Regions from separate parts of the Homo sapiens genome. Here all the other regions are linked to region 3. The links come from fine-mapping of genetic effects on gene expression. A gene starts in region 3. Each other region holds a variant in brackets. All regions are shown on one strand. Distances are from middle to middle. Region 1 overlaps SYNRG (synergin gamma). Region 2 overlaps SYNRG (synergin gamma). Region 3 holds the start of SYNRG (synergin gamma).

Region 1 (5,227 bases), 69 kb after region 3:
AACGAATGTTCGGATGACTTTGGAGAGTTTCAAAGTGAAAAGCCCAAAATCAGCAAATTTGACTTCTTAGTAGCCACTTCACAAAGCAAAATGAAATCCAGTGAAGAAATGATCAAAAGTGAGCTGGCAACCTTTGACCTTTCTGTTCAAGGTGAGTAGCTTCCAAGGTAGATTTTACTATTGTGGTTTTTTTCCACTGAGATGTTAGATGTTCTTAAGAATAAAATGTTGCTCTCTGGTTTCGCAGGAAATAGATTGTTCTAATCTTTGAAATCAGGGTCAATTACAGATAGCTATAATAAAGATTTCCCTGAGACGGGAGTCAAAATCAGCATCCCTCAGATAACTGCTTTATGGGCTAAAAACAAGCACAGCATGCAGGTATTGCTCATTAGCTCGTTTGGTTAGAGGTGTGCTGTGTTAAAAGAGCCAGATAAATGGATTCGAGCCACTTGTAGGCACATTAGCTCCGCTCATGTTCCCTGAGCACAGATAATGTCTTTTAATCCAAAGGTTGCAAAGTGGGGGCCGGGGATCTGCATCTAGCCTGCATATCACATTGACCCACACAAAAGATTTTTAAGTACGAAGTAATTGCCAGTATTTAAAAGACATGAGATTTCCCAATCTGGATTTCCAACTTTTCTTGAGAAGTCATAATATCTGGCACTAGTAGGTCTACAGTCCCATATGTTGGCAGCTGGAGCCGAAGAGCACCACTCCCTGTAGGTGGGTCATTCTCTCTCTCCTACCATAATCCCCACCGCTTCCTGTCTCAGCGGACCTACTTAAGTTGTTCACTTTACTTGCCTGGTCTCTGAAGGCATTTGAGTTTGCCTCTTCTGCTTTAATCTCATCCTGACAGGAGGGGTCGTTGATTTCAACTGGATTGAGAGACTGTGAAGGAACTCGGTTACAAATCCATAACAAATGACTGGAAAAGCCACACAACTCTTACATACTGATATTTAGAAAGGTGCTTTTGTTCTCCAGACTCCAGTGATTCTGCACTGGGCATTATGGAAGACTTGTGATAGATCAGAGAAGAGTCATGTTGAAAACGAAACGCAGGGAAACCGTGCAAGAGAGAACAGTAGAAAAGATTTAACATGTAGCTTCCCAGAAAGAATGAATGAGGAATGTGTTTGTGAATGCCTCATGACATAAGCATCTGAAGAAGAGGGTCGTGGGCTGGGCGCGGTGGCTCACACCTGTAATCTCAACGCTTTGGGAGGGGAGGCAGGCAGATAACTTGAGATCAGGAGTTCGAGACCAGCCTGGCCAACACAATGAAACCGTGTATCTACTAAAAATACAAAAATTAGCCAGGCATGATGGTGTGCACCTGTAGTCCCAGCTACTCAGGAGGCTGAGGCAGGAGAATTGCTTGAACCCAGGAGGCGGAGGTTGCACTGAGCCGAGATCACACCACCGTACTCCAGTCTGAGCGACAGAGCAAGAATCTGTCTCAAAAAAAAAAAAAAAAAAAAAAGAAGAGGGTTGTGGTAGCGAGGAAGAGCCTCTGCCTGAACTAAGGTGAGTAGCCAAAACCTTTGACTGTATTATCCCCTTCTCCCAGGATCACACAAGAGGAGTTTGAGCCTTGGTGATAAAGAAATAAGCCGTTCTTCTCCTTCTCCAGCTTTGGAGCAGCCTTTCAGAGACCGTTCCAATACTCTGAATGAGAAGCCCGCCCTGCCCGTCATCCGAGACAAGTACAAAGACCTGACGGGAGAGGTGGAGGTGAGAGGAGAGCTTTCTACAAGGGGTGGGTAACAGACCAGCAAGCACACAGGGCCCCAAGAAAGAATGCTGTCAGCTTTCACATGGGGAAAATGAGGGGCAGAAAGACACAAAGCACCAGACATAAACTATGTAATTAAAGTGAGGCAAGGGTAACATTAGCCCTGGGTGAAAACATTTCCCAGGTGTGGCACCCACTGAAACTAATCAGTGACCCTAAAACCAAAACTATTCATGGGACTTCACAAGGATGGCAGTGTTTGTATAATTCTTCTTGAGCACTTAGACTTTATTGTCTTCATGAAACCTCAAAATAGAGGAGACAGGGAAAATATTCTGAATTTTTTATTTCTGTCTGCTGCATCTTAGTGCCACGCTATGTTCCTCCTATGGTCAACACACTTAATTTCCCACCTTTCCCTACTCCTTGTTACATGTGCACATGGGCCACGTCCTCACACACAGCCACACAGCGTTATAACTGGGGCGTGGAAAGCCAGTGGCTTAATAGCAGTTTCTGTACCAGATAGCTACATGCTGAGTGCCTCCGAAGAAAGGCTTACACTGTTACTGATGGAACAAATGAGGCAACACTCACAGGGGGAAGCTGCTGGAAAGCATGTCCCTTAGACTCACAGGTCCTGTGCTCAGAAGTTACATTTATTAGTAATTTAACATAGTTATTAGTGAGTTCAAAAAGATAAACTGCGGCTGGGCATGGTGGCTCATGCCTGTAATCTCAGCACTTTGGAAGGCCAAGTCGGGCAGATCACTCGAGCTCAGGAGTTCAAGACAAGCCTGAGCAACATGGTGAAACCCCACCTCTACCAAAAATACAAAAATTAGCCTCATGTGGTGGTGCGTGCCTGTAGTCCCAGCTGCTCTGGAGGCTGAGGTGGGAGGATTGCTTGCGTCCAGTGCAGTGAGCAGAAATCATGCCACTGCACTTCAGCCTGGGCAACAGAGCAAGACCCTATCTCAAAACAAAAACAAAAACAAAAAAAACATAAACTGCTTGAACTAGAGTGATCGTAATAAAAAGGAAAGTCCTCCAAGCACTTTGAATTGACAGAGTCATCAATAGAAGATTCCAGGTTTGTGTGTTTAACCCAGTTCTTTTTAACAAATTCACAGGAAAATGAGAGATATGCATATGAATGGCAGAGATGCCTGGGGAGTGCCCTGAATGTGAGTATGTCACTTACGCGTTCACACATATGTGAGTGCTCTTTTGTGCCTTTTTGCCTTCTTGGTTCATTTGAATTGACAGAGGCAAACTTCAGGAGAGCCTTACTTGGATGTCCCTGGGCAAAGAGTAACTCTGTGGAAGTCATGCATCT[A/T]AGGTGAGGCTTCTTTCACACTTACAATAGCAGACCGGCTCATGTGTCAGTCATCCCCTCATCTGTCATTGTGTTTAAGAAATAACAAAGTGATTTCATTAACTCTGACTAAATCAAAATAATATTTAAGCTAAAGAACCTGTCTTGGCTGGGTGCGGTGGCTCAACACCTATAATCCCAGCACTTTGGGAGGCCAAGGCGGGCGGATCACGAGGTCAGGAGTTTGAGACCAGCCTGACCAACATGGTGAAACCCTGTCTCTACTAAAAATGCAAAAATTAGCCAGGCGTGGTGGCACGTGCCTGTAATCTCAGCTACTCAGGAAACTGAGGCAGGAGAATCACTTGAACCCGGGAGTCAGGGGTTCAGTGAGCCGAGATCTTGCCACTGCACTCCAACCTGTGCTACAGAGCGAGACTCCGTCTCAAAACAAAGCAAAACAAAACAAAAGGAAAAAAACATATTTTCTCTTCCAGAGAAATGGAGGATTGTTTCTTCAAGGATAAAATGAGATTTTTTGACACCTCCTGGCTTTTCGGTTGGGTTTTCTACTAATAGTAAATTGATTTGCAATGACTTTTCTCAGTTATGTAAGGTGATGTGATTTCATTTCTTGTAGGTCATTAAGAAGGCAAATGATACCTTAAATGGAATCAGTAGTAGTTCTGTTTGCACAGAAGTAATTCAGTCAGCTCAAGGCATGGAATATTTATTAGGTATGTTCTTTCATATTTTACTATTGAAAATGATGGCCCTTTGCATTATTTTCAGTTTTCCCTTTAATTATTTTAAGCTAGATCTCTCAAGTTACATATGACTTCAGTAAGAAGCATCTGTATTTGTGGGTAAGACACTCAAGCTACAGGCAGTAAACTATTGGACTTAATTAAAAAGTCTCTATGGCTAAGTTTCCTCATCCTTGTTATATACGTAATAGCAAAAATGTAAAATTATATCTGTGTTACTGGTTTATCAAAGAATCTGAACTACCGATGCACTAAAGTAAAATCATCTTGTCTCCCATCAATTCCTTACCATACTCTATATTCTTTCTCTCGACCGCTTAATGACACCACAGAGTCCTTAACCTCCTGGCCATCTGCAGCAATTTGATGTGTCAGTCCAACGGGAAAGTGTAGTCTCTGTCCACTTCGGTGTTCCTCCCTTCCCCAAGCTCAGGCTTGGCCCGTGGCCAGAGCCACACATGCTGGACCCTAATCTTTTTCAAATCTTTACTCAAATGTCAGCTTCTGAGTGAAATCTTTCCTAGCATCCATCTCTCCAAAGAGTATCGTCTCTCCCTACCCCGGTACTTCCCATCCCATTCTCTGCTGGATTTTCTCCTTAGCCCTATTACCTTTAATTTCTTACATATGTTACTTATTATTCTTTTCTTTTCTTTTCTTTTTTAAGACAGGTTCACACTCTGTCACCCAGGTTGGAGTGTAGTGATGTAGTCATGACTCACTGCAGCGTCCACCTCCCAGGCGCAAGCAATCATCCCACCTCAGCCTCCCAAGTAGCTGGAACCACAGGTGTGCACCACCATGCACCCAGCTAATTTTTGTAGTTTTTGTAGAGACAGGTTTCCGCCATGTTGCCCAGGCTGGTCTCGAACTCCTGAGCTCAAGCGACCCACCCACCTTGGCCTCCCGAAGTGCTGGGATCACAGGCGTGAGCCACTGCACCTAGCTACTTGTTGTTTTTACTCTCTGTCTCCCTTCACTAGAATGAACCTCCAAGAAGGCAAGGATTTTGGTCTGTTTTGTTCACTGGTGTGTCCCCAACACCTAATCTAGTGTCTTGCACGTAGTTGGCACTCAAAAATATTTGCTGGATGAGTGGAGAGTGAAGGGATGTAGTCTCTGCCTTACTCCTGCCACCTCACTTGGGGTCTTCTTTTCCTGCTCAAACAGGCACAGTTCTGCATAAGCAGATGTCCACCAGGAAATGGGGCACCTGTCTTTTCTCCTAGTATCCTTGTATCTATGGAAGATTCTCTTAGAAGCCCCCTCACTTGGCTTAGGGTGGGCAGTAATTTCTGCCCCTCTCTTGGGAAAGGAAGAAGAAAAGCCGTAGTGCTGACACAGGGCTGCTGAGGCCCCGCTCTGAAGATCCCCTGGAATTCCTCCAGTGTTCACTTA
Region 2 (5,227 bases), 83 kb after region 3:
ACAAGTCTGTGATTTGAATCTGTATCATTTCAGAGTCCATTCTTCTTCCTACTCTATGTTACTTCCAGCTTTTAAGTTACTGAAAATGACTTATTTCTTCCCATGAAGACTCTGTGAGGCTGTTCCTATCGGAAGACAGCTGCATCACTTTCTCCAGTGAAAGTCACAGAATGTAGTGCGGCATCACAGTAGTCATGCTTGGGCTAAGGAAGGCAGGGTACACCGTCTTAAACTCCAAATTGTGGCTCCTTGATGTTTATTTAAGCTGGAAATGACACAGTCATTCCCCTGTCCATGGGGGGGGAATTGGTTCCAGGACATCCCCCATTTCTGGATATAAAAATCTGCAGACGTTCGAGTTCCTGATAAGAAATGGCATAGGATTTGCATATAACCTATGCACATCCTCCTGTGTATTTTAAAGAATCTCTAGATTACTTATAACACCTAATACAATGTAAATGCTGCGTAAATAGTTATTATATGTATTGGATTTTTTTATTTGTATCATTTTTGTTTTTTTCTATTTTTTCCTCCGAATATTTTTGATCTGAGGTTGGTTGAACCCACAGATGTGGAACCCATGGATACCGAGGGCTGACTGTACTGGCAAAGCTTTATGCTCTCTTTCTCTTTGATACTCTTTATCCATGGACTAAGACTCCCTCTTGTGGTAGAAGCATGTCTCCTCCAGGCACAGACTGAAGGCCTGCTTCTTTCTCAAGAGGTGAAACTCACCTGGTTTAGTGAGATGTGATGCACTCTGAGATTGGCTCCCAAGTGACTTGTCATCTAAGGTTTTATCTTGTGAAGTGGGTTGAAGTTCAGTAGGTTTGGAACAAACAGAGAATTCTGTCCTGGAAAATTAATCGATTTTTGCCATATAAAATCTAAGAGAAGAGAAAAGGTTGTTATTCGCCTGAATTTTAGTCAACTGGCAATCATACAGGCTCTCTGATTCCACTGTTCACCTCAGTGAAATATGAATTCTTTACTACTTCCTTTCAATGTGAAATTGACCAGTGAATTTCAGAGTCCTTATTTCCTATTGCTGTGACATATCAGGAGAACAGTTTATTTTCAATGGTGATAGCATTTTTGTCATCTTGCCAGTCTGCACAATGTTTTAGAGACAGGATCTTTACTATGTCTCTGCATGGCTGTCCTCAGTTGACAGAAGGCAGCTGTGGTAGACAGAATGATGGCCCCCTCAAAGCTACCCATGTCCTGGGAACTTGTCAATATGTTACCTTTGCAAATGGGATTAAGTTAAAGGCCTTTCTTTGGGGAAGGTATCCTGGATTATCCAGGTGACCCCAATGTCATCACATGGATCCTTAGAAGGGGAAGGTAGGAGGGGAAGAGTGAGAAAAAGTGATGTGACAACAGAAGCAGAGAGAAGAAGAGAGTGGCAGATGCTACCTGCTGGCTTTGAAGATGGGACCACAAGTCAGGGAATGTAGAGGTCGTCCCTAGAAGCTAGAAAAGGCAAGGAAACAGATTTTCCCCTAGAACTCCTAGAAGGAATGCAGTCCTTCTCACCCATTTTAGACTTCTGAAATCCACAACTGTAAGAGGATACATTTATGTTGTTTTAAGCCATTAAGTTTGTGCTTTGTTACAGCAGCAATAGGAAAGATTATACAAGACATTGTAACCAAGCAAATACCAAAACTTTATAATTGCCTATGGAACCTGTGTCTAGATCACCCTTTGTATCAGTCAAATTAGACTAGGTTATGCTTCAGTAACAAATAGTTTCTTCTATCTTAGCAAAAGCAAAGCTTTATTTCTTGCTCAGGCTATGTGTCCATCTCAAGTTGGTGGGGGGCTCTGTGCCATGTCCTTACCCAGGGACCCAGGTTGACAGAGCCTCCACCATGTGGAACATAGCTGGTCACCGTGGGAGTGTCAAGGAAACATGAGAAATAGCACATTGGTCTTAAAGGCTTCTTCCCAGAGGTGACACTCTTTTTTTTTTTTTGAGATGGCATCTTCCTCTGTTGCCCAGGCTGGAGTGCAGTGGTGCAATCTCAGCTCACTGCAGCCTCCATCTCTTGGGTTCAAGCTATTCTCCTACCTCAGCTTCCCAAATAGCTGGGATTACAGGCACCCGCCACCACGTCCGGC[C/T]AATTGTTTTGTTTTGTTTTTGAGACGGAGTCTCGCTCTGTTGCCCAGGCTGGAGTGCAATGGCGCGATCTTGGCTCACTTCAACCTCCACCTCCTGGGTTCAAGCAATTCTCCTGCCTCAGCCTCCTGAATAGCTGGGATTACAGGCAAGCGCCACCACACCTGGCTAATTTTTGTATTTTTAGTAGAGACGGGGTTTCACCATGTTGGCCAGGCTGGTCTCCAAAGCCTGACCTCGTGATCCGCCCGCCTTGGCCTCCCAAAGTGCTGAGATTACAGGTGTGAGCCACCGCTCCCGGCATTTTTTTGTATTTTTAGTAGAGACGGGGCTTTGCCATGTTGGCCAGGCTGGTCTTGAACTCCTGACCTCAGGTGATCCACCCACCTCGGCCTCCCAAAGTGCTGGGGTTACAGGTGTGAGCCACCATACTCCCGGCTTACGTGTGACTTTTGCTTAGTTATTGACTGTGGCAAGTTACAGGCCAATGCCTGATTGAAAAAGGGGCAGGGAAGGCCCATCCTACCATTCCATAAAAAGGAGAAAGATTATTGGTGAAGAACACTAATTACTACCAAACTCTTCTTCCTTAATAAGGATCTTCCTGGACACCATTGTAGCAGTTTATTGTAGGCTAAAGATTCAGGATTATATATCTCAGTCTGACATTGGGACTTATCAGTGTCAGTAGGCCATATATAATATGTATATATTTTTTTAAATCTTAACTAAATGCATGAAATACTTGCCAAATAAGGAGATGATCAATTTAAGGTGACTTGTAGAGGGCATACCTTCTTATATGATGACAGCCAAACTGTTATCTTATATGATTGGTGCCAAACTGTTAATATTACACTACAATAAACACCCTGTTTATACATGTGTACTTAAGAAGGTTAATTTTGTCAGCTGAAAGAGTAATTTGATCACAGGGTCATTTATGCAGAGCCTTATGGTTTTCATTGGCGATTACAGTATGATCTTTTCATTTGCTTTCCTTATGCCTTTGGTAAACAGATATTAAGGGGCTTCTATTAATTTGATTGATTTCAGGATTCAGAGTTTTCCCAGATTCTAATTATTTCTCAAATAGCCCTGATTCAGTAACATGATGACTATCTGTAATGTGGATTACAGAGATGATACTATGTTTTAACCTCTTTTAAAAGCTTGCTAAGAGTTCGTCAAAGTGAATAATTGTGATCATCATATAGACTACTTTTCACTTCCAGAGCATGTTTTATGTCCATCTGAGATATATAGAAATGGGAGAGAGGTGTAGGGCAAGTGAAATAGTTACCATTTTACAGATGACTGACTGCAGAACAAGCGTTAGCACCAGCGTCTTCCACATTTGACCAGAGTGACCACAGTTGCACTACAAAAGAAAAGAGAGAAAAGAAAAAATATCCTATGACTTGGCTAAGGCCATGTAAGTTTACTTTGATCACCTACACCAGAGTCCTTTTGCACACAGTTGAAACATACACCTCACCTTTTCTTCTCTGAAAACCGTGTGTTCTTCCTTCCCCTGCTGTGATCTCAGTGGATCTAGCTCAAATGTGTTTAAGAAAGATTTGTGGAGCTAGTTCATGGTTTATTATTTCAAATTAGAAAGGAACAGGGAACATCATACATAATCTACACATTTTTATAAGGAGAAATCTTTTTTTTTCCTGGTGAGGAAAAATACAGATCATATAATTTTGCTTTGTTGCTCAAAAACGACGTGGAAACTCCTCAGTGGTTCAGACTGGAAGAACTATGGGAAATGTAGCTGTTAATTTGGCAGGAATTTGCCATCATCCTGGGTCACCTCAGTATCCATGAAGACAAACCAACTGCCATGCCAGGCTCCCAGATGCTTGACTGCCTGGCCCACAGAGCCCTCGCTTCCCCTGCACTTCAGCCACCCACTGGCATCACCACGATGGGCTGTGTTAGCAAACATTGTGCAGCGCCTGTGCAGTCTCGAGCCCCGACATCGAACTTCCTGAGTCCAGATTGGCGACCCTCCCGTTGTCTCACTCTTCACTGGCACTGCTCTTGTTTTTGGTTCTCAAGACAGGATGTTGTCTCTTTTACTGTGTTCCTGTCAGCCCTCTTCTGTCTTCACTTCTTTTCTCACCTCCTTACTCTCCACAGTGCATGGGGCATCCCTCCTCACTCCCTTCAGTCATACTCATTAGACCAAACCCAACTGGAATCAGTGCAGCCATCCACCTTCTCCCCCCACCTTGACCCACTGTGTGCTGGTGGAGACAATCACACCTCCAGAGTTTGCTGCTTGGAGCTCACAAGGCTACTGCTATTTCAGACACAGCTGATGATCTCACCTCCTGCATTAGAGTGAGGATGAGCCCTCTGAGAGGAACTCCTCAACTTCTAGGCTCCCACCTGAGATTCCATTCTGTCGCACTAGTGTGTTAAATCCAGTTCTTACTGGCTTGCAAGAGTGGATTGTTAAATGTTCAGGAATTTTATGAGCCAGTTGTTAAACACCGTTATTACTAAAAATTAAATGAAGACTGGGTGCAGTGGCTCATGCCTCTAATTCCAACACTTTGGAAAGCTGAGGTGGGAGGATTGCTTGAGGCCAGAAGTTCTAGACCAGCCTGGGCAACATAGCGAGACCTCATCTCTACTAAAAATAAAAAGTAGCCAGGTGTAGTGGCACACACCTGTAGTCCCAGCTACTCAGGAGGCTGAGGCAAAAGGATTGCTTGATCCCAAGAGTTTGAGGCTGCAGTGAGCCATGATCACACACGCCCCTGCACTCCACCCTGGGTGACAGAGTGAGATTCTATCTCAAAAGCAAGACAAAACACAAATGATATAAACTTGCAGTTACATATATTATATTAAAAATAGTGGTAATACTTAAAACATTCTAGTTCTTAAATTTTACTCTTGTCTAGCTTTCAGGGTTATTTATGTCTATCACAGGGCAACCAACTGTCCCTGTTTGGTCAGGACTGAGGGATGTCCTCAGTGCTAAAAAGTGATGGAGAAAATGTTATTAGTGCAGATTAAACTTAAAAGTGTGTGGCCAGGCACGGTGGCTCACACCTGTAATCCCAGCACTTTGGGAGGCCA
Region 3 (5,210 bases):
GGCCAGGCTGGTCTCAAACTCCTGACCTGGAGTGAGCCACTATATCCGGCCTTTATAAACTTTTTTGATTCTTGTCATAACACTTAGCCTAAAATGCAAATGTACAGCTGTAGAAAAATACTTTATTTCTTTATATCCTTATTCTAGAAGCTTTTTTTCTATTAATTTTTGTTTGTTTGTTTTGTTTTACTATTTACTTCTAAAACTTTTTTGTTAAAAACCATGGCACAAACACACACATTATGCTAGGCATACAAAAGGTCAGGATCATCAGTCTCACTGTCTTCCACCCCCACTTCTCATCCCACCATTGTATCTGCTGTCTGTGGCTGACCAAAACATCATCATGTAGCACATGACTAGTGTGGCAAGTGCTCTGTTAGATGTAAGGCCATGATGCTAAAGCATCACAAGAGGGCATCTAACCCAGATTGGGGATGTCATGGAAGGCCGACATCCTGAGTTGAATCCTGCAAATGTAAAAACCAATAGGCAAAGAAGAGGAACAAAAAGGATTCCAGGACAAACTGAGGTCACATCTATGATCCTTGACTTTATTGTGTCTGTTTAAAGTATCTACAGTAACCTGTATCAACTTAGTCAGTGTATTAATACTAAATTTAGCTCCTTCAAAGCAGTTGGAACTATGTGCTACATAAATTTCAGCTTCACACAAGGAAGGGAAGGAGTGAAATTAGTGAACAGGCAGTTACAGCAAAAGAAAAAACATAAAAATTGAATAGCTGGCTCTGGTGAAATGAGCAAGGACTTTAGAGTCAAACTGGCCTGGATTTGAATCCTGATCCTCATTGCTTGTAGCTGTATGATCTGGACAAATGACAGTAACTGTTTCTAACCTTGATTTTCTCATCTGTAAGATGCCAATTGTAACTCCTAAGGATACTGAGGATTTTTTAAAATGCGTGTACAGTTCCTGACCAGTGGTTTGTGCCTAATAACTTATTACAAATTATTACCCAGTAAAAACCTTGAGACAAGAGTGAAAACGTAAAGCTAATTAATCCATTACTTGTTAGCAAGCAAACTACGTGCTTGAGAAAATTACTCAACTTTCATGTTTTACTTCCAGACAGTAGTTTGATTAAAAGAAAAAAAAAAATCACAGCCCAGGCATGTGGCTCACACCCTGGCACTTGGAGGCCGAGGTGGGAGCATAGCTTGAGCCTAGCAGTTTGAAACTAGCCTGGGCAACATAGATCCTATCTCTACAAAAAAAAAAAAAAAAAAAAAAAAAAAAATTGGCCCGGTGTGGTGGTGCATGCCTGTGGTCCCAGCTACTCAGGAGGCTGAGGCGAGAGGATCGCTTGAGCCAGGGAGGCTGAGGCTGCTGTGAGCCATGATCATGCCACTGCACTCCAGCCTGGACAACAGAGCAAGACCCTGTCTCAAAAAAAAAAAAAATCAGTAAAAAATATGCCGAAATAGCTTCAGAGTAATTATGAATTGCCTTCCAAAAACCACTGTTTTGCACTTGCCTGCAAGAATAGGAAAAACAAAAGGACTGTAAGGTGGCAGGATGGCAGAACCAAACAAGAGTAGTACACCTTGGAGTTTTTTCGAAATATGGGTTGGGTTTTTGGGCTCTTGGTTGATTTAAAATAAAATTTAAATGCCTTCAGCGTCTGTGATAGGTGCCAACATGAAGCTACCGAGTTCCAGAGAAAGAGGGGAGAGCTGATCACTCATCAGTGCTGCGAGACTATCAAAGGGCCCTTCAGGACCTATCTGTTCTTTGTGTGTAAAGAGTAACAATAAAAGAACACCAGTGTACCCACCGTATAGTTTAAAAATCAGGACTCAGCCTACTCTTTCCACTAACCGCGATCATGGTTTTCAAACGGAGGACCAACGGCGCTTTGCCACTGGGCCGCCAGCTGGGCCCTGCAGAGGGCCTACCAGACAATGAATCAGCTCCCTTGGAGAGGCGCCCGCGACCGCCCCACCAGCCCGAGAGCTAGAATTGAATCTGGGGGACCCCTGCGGCGCCGGGTCACGTGCCGTGGGCGCGCCACGCCTCCCCGAGGGCCGGGGGAGTCACGTGGGCGCGAGGCCCCGCCCCATCGCCCGGTCCGCGGCGAGGTGGGGCCTGGTGTTTGACCCGGAAGTGGCTGTGTTCAGCTGACAGCTGCTGATAAGGTGGCGGCGGCGAAGGCAGCGGCAGGTCGGGAGCAAGATGGCGCTGCGGCCAGGAGCTGGTTCTGGTGGCGGCGGGGCCGCGGGAGCTGGCGCGGGGTCCGCCGGGGGAGGCGGGTAGGTGTGAAGAGCCGGGCGGGAGCCCGCTGGCCTCCGCGGGGGCGGCGAGGGGCGCTTGGCAGTTATGGCAGTTTTCTCCAGCCCTGATCCTTTTCCTTGGAACTGGGCTGCGGGAGGAGGGTCATCCCCCAGGGACCCAGGCCGAAAGGGGCGTGTGGAGCCCAGGTGCTGGACGCTGGTGTTCCGGGATCAGTTGGGGGCGCCGGCCGCCTGGAATCGAGCGGGGAGCGAGCGCGCGCCCAGTGTGGGAGGGGAGAGAAGATGAGGGTCCTCTTGGGGTGGGGGGGGGCGGGGCAAATCAGGAACCGCGACTCCGCTCCTAGTCCTAGCTGCCTCTGAAGCGACCAGGGTCTTCCCTTTCCTTGGGCTTTCTAGACTTAACCGGATATGTTGGAGGGAGGGCTTTAAAAATCTGTTCACAAAGCTGGAGGACTGTTTCCAAGGGGGGTGTGTGTGTGGACTATTTGTCTCTTCCCCTTTTAGAGTGTCCTGTCCTCTTTATTTCCTTAACCCGCGACAAACAGCAGGAACATCTAAAGACCTCTGAATTAGTAATGGTCTTGAGATAGAGTTCTTGTCTTGTACACTAACTCTTAAGACTTGTCTGTCTTCTTTTTAAAAAGGCATTTAAAAACAAAGAAAGTGCACTGTTAAACAGCAGTTGCGCATTTATTAGAACAAAGCTTCCAGACTCAGCCCTTAAACAAATCTGCCCTCTGCCACATTTCAGCCAAGAACTGCCGTGGTTCTTATACCCAGAATGGTAAGGGAGATGTACGTTTTACAAGCTGACAGATTCGTTATCATTTAAGGAAATATTTTATTCTAGGAAGTTTTCACTCCACTTCTATAATGACCTAGTCTGATTTTGTTTTACTAACCAACACACAACAGCACACACATTTGGAGGTAAAAGTAGCTTTGCATCTTCAGTATCCTAAATTGTCTTTGGAAAACGAAGTGTTAGGTTTTTTTTTTATATGCAGTGTTTCAATTTCGGAGTCGTGAACACTACAAAAGTGTAAGGACCTTAAAGTTATCACCTCTTGCAGGTGCTTGTCAGGAAACGAGCAGTGGCTGTTCAATAAACCACCTGTGTGTAACCCCATTTTTCATTTCCTCTGCACATCTTTAACTTTAGATTTTTAAACTTTTTGCTTTCTCTTTTGTTCTCTCCGTTGTTTCATTAGAGGGTTTTTTAAAAAATAAATACTTCGTGTAAGCCAGTTTCTGGCTGGAGAAGAAACATATGTAATAATTCCCTTCTATTTGTTTTTTCTTTTTCTTTTGTCTTGTTTTTTTTTTTTTTTTTTTTTTTTTGAGAGGAAGTCTTGCTCTGTTGCCCAGGCCAGAGTGCGGCGGCGTGATCTCGACCCGCTGCAACCTCTGCCTCCTGGGTCCAAGCGATTCTCTTGCCTCAGCCTCGGAGCAGCTGGGATTACAGGTGCGCGCCACCATGCCCGGCTAATTTTGTTGATTGATCGATTGAGACAGAGTCTCGTTCTGTCACCCAGGCTAGAGTGCAGTGGCACGATGTCGGCTCACTGCAACCTCGACCTCCCGGGTTCAAGCGATTCTTCTGCCTCAGCCTCCCAAGTAGCTGGGATTACAGGCGTGCGCCACCACGCCCAGCTAATTTCTGTATTTTTAGTAGAGACGGGGTTTCACCATGTTAGCCAGGCTGGTCTCAAACTCCTGGCCTCAAGTGATCCGCCCACCTTGGCCTCCCAAAGTTCTAGAATTACAGGCTTGAGTCACCACGCCCGGCATCCTCTATTTATTTCCTATATGTGATTACAGTTTCTAAAATGTCCCTGGATGGTATTAATTTGATCAAGTATATGATTAATCATGGCACCAAGTTCTGGGAAAATGTAAACTTAGAAGAATTGATATCTAGGCCCAAATTTTTATTTACTTAAAAAATGTTTTTGGATGGGGAGGACCTCAGGTTCAGAAATTCAAGTGCATTATTCCCTTTAGTTTGCAGTATTTGAGTATCATTGGTCCATGGACACAAATTTTTAAAATAAATATGGGTTGAATTTTGATAGAAATTAGAATGATTTTAAAATTTCCCCCCTTTGTAAATGTAGCAACATCTGCATTCTAAAACTGTAAACGATATACAGGAGAGAAAGAAGTGGTTAAAATGATTCTTACCTTGAAAAATGTATGGTACATATGTTACATATATTGGCAACTTTCTGAGGCTGAGAAGCTGTATCCTCAATAGAAAAAGGAATATTATTTTTTTTAGAGAGTAATGGTGTAAAGGCTGAAGTTATTTTATTTCCTTTTTAATTTTCTTTTTGCCACCCACCCTCCCTGAAATTATTTTATAAGGAAACTTAACATTATGGCAACCTAAGTATATTTGAAGAAAAAAAACAGGCAACTTCTCTACACCTTTAATGGAGAAAATCCATGAACTATAACTGACTGTATTGTTTAGATACTTCTCTATATTCTAAGAGGCTAAGCAAAACACAATAACGTTTTCCAAATTTAATATTACCCTACTTTTGATTGGTGTCCTGGATGAGCTACTTTAGAATAAATGGTAGAGTTGTATAAAGGGCAAAATTTGCCCAAGAGATGAGAAGTATAAATTTTTTTTTTCTTTAATCAAGGCAGAAAAAAAAAAGAGTTGAAAGATCTGGATTAGTCTGTAGTCATTGAATGCTTACATGGGTAAGGTACTGTTCTTGATGCTGTAATGAATTAAAAAGACATCAAAACATGGTCCCCATCCTTGGAGAATGTACAAAATAACTGTGGTACAAAGTAAAGTGGAACAAAGAGGTCACGTTCTTCTGGGATGTTATCATCTGTGAACTTGTCTATTTTTTCCTGATCTTTTACAAGCTTTTAGAGGGCTTCCTCATCTTTTCTTCTTTCACTGCTTCTAGCACATTTTTGCACATAAAAAACAT

The links. PIP is the estimated chance that this variant, and not a neighbour inherited with it, causes the effect.
Region 1: its variant is fine-mapped to the expression of SYNRG in unexposed skin (GTEx, PIP above 0.99). The same link has a PIP of 0.9 or more in aorta, esophagus muscle, lung, monocytes, pancreas and sigmoid colon.
Region 2: its variant is fine-mapped to the expression of SYNRG in whole blood (TOPMed, PIP above 0.99).

The regions. Positions count from the first base shown.
Region 1 is chr17:37,536,896-37,542,122 of GRCh38, reverse strand. SYNRG (synergin gamma) reads left to right here. Exons shown (of 22, transcript NM_007247.6): 15 at 1-151; 16 at 1,580-1,743; 17 at 2,878-2,931; 18 at 3,703-3,799. Among named protein-coding and RNA genes, the nearest start is that of DUSP14, 50 kb to the right of the region's middle. RefSeq lists an enhancer at 1-440. The variant A/T (reference allele first, on the strand shown) is at 3,084.
Region 2 is chr17:37,522,890-37,528,116 of GRCh38, reverse strand. The region is part of intron 19 of SYNRG (synergin gamma); the gene reads left to right. Among named protein-coding and RNA genes, the nearest start is that of DUSP14, 36 kb to the right of the region's middle. The variant C/T (reference allele first, on the strand shown) is at 2,131.
Region 3 is chr17:37,606,340-37,611,549 of GRCh38, reverse strand. It overlaps SYNRG (synergin gamma), which reads left to right and starts at 2,132. Exons shown (of 22, transcript NM_007247.6): 1 at 2,132-2,271. The coding sequence starts at 2,195. DDX52 (DExD-box helicase 52) reads left to right here. Exons shown (of 15, transcript NM_007010.5): 15 at 1-1,811.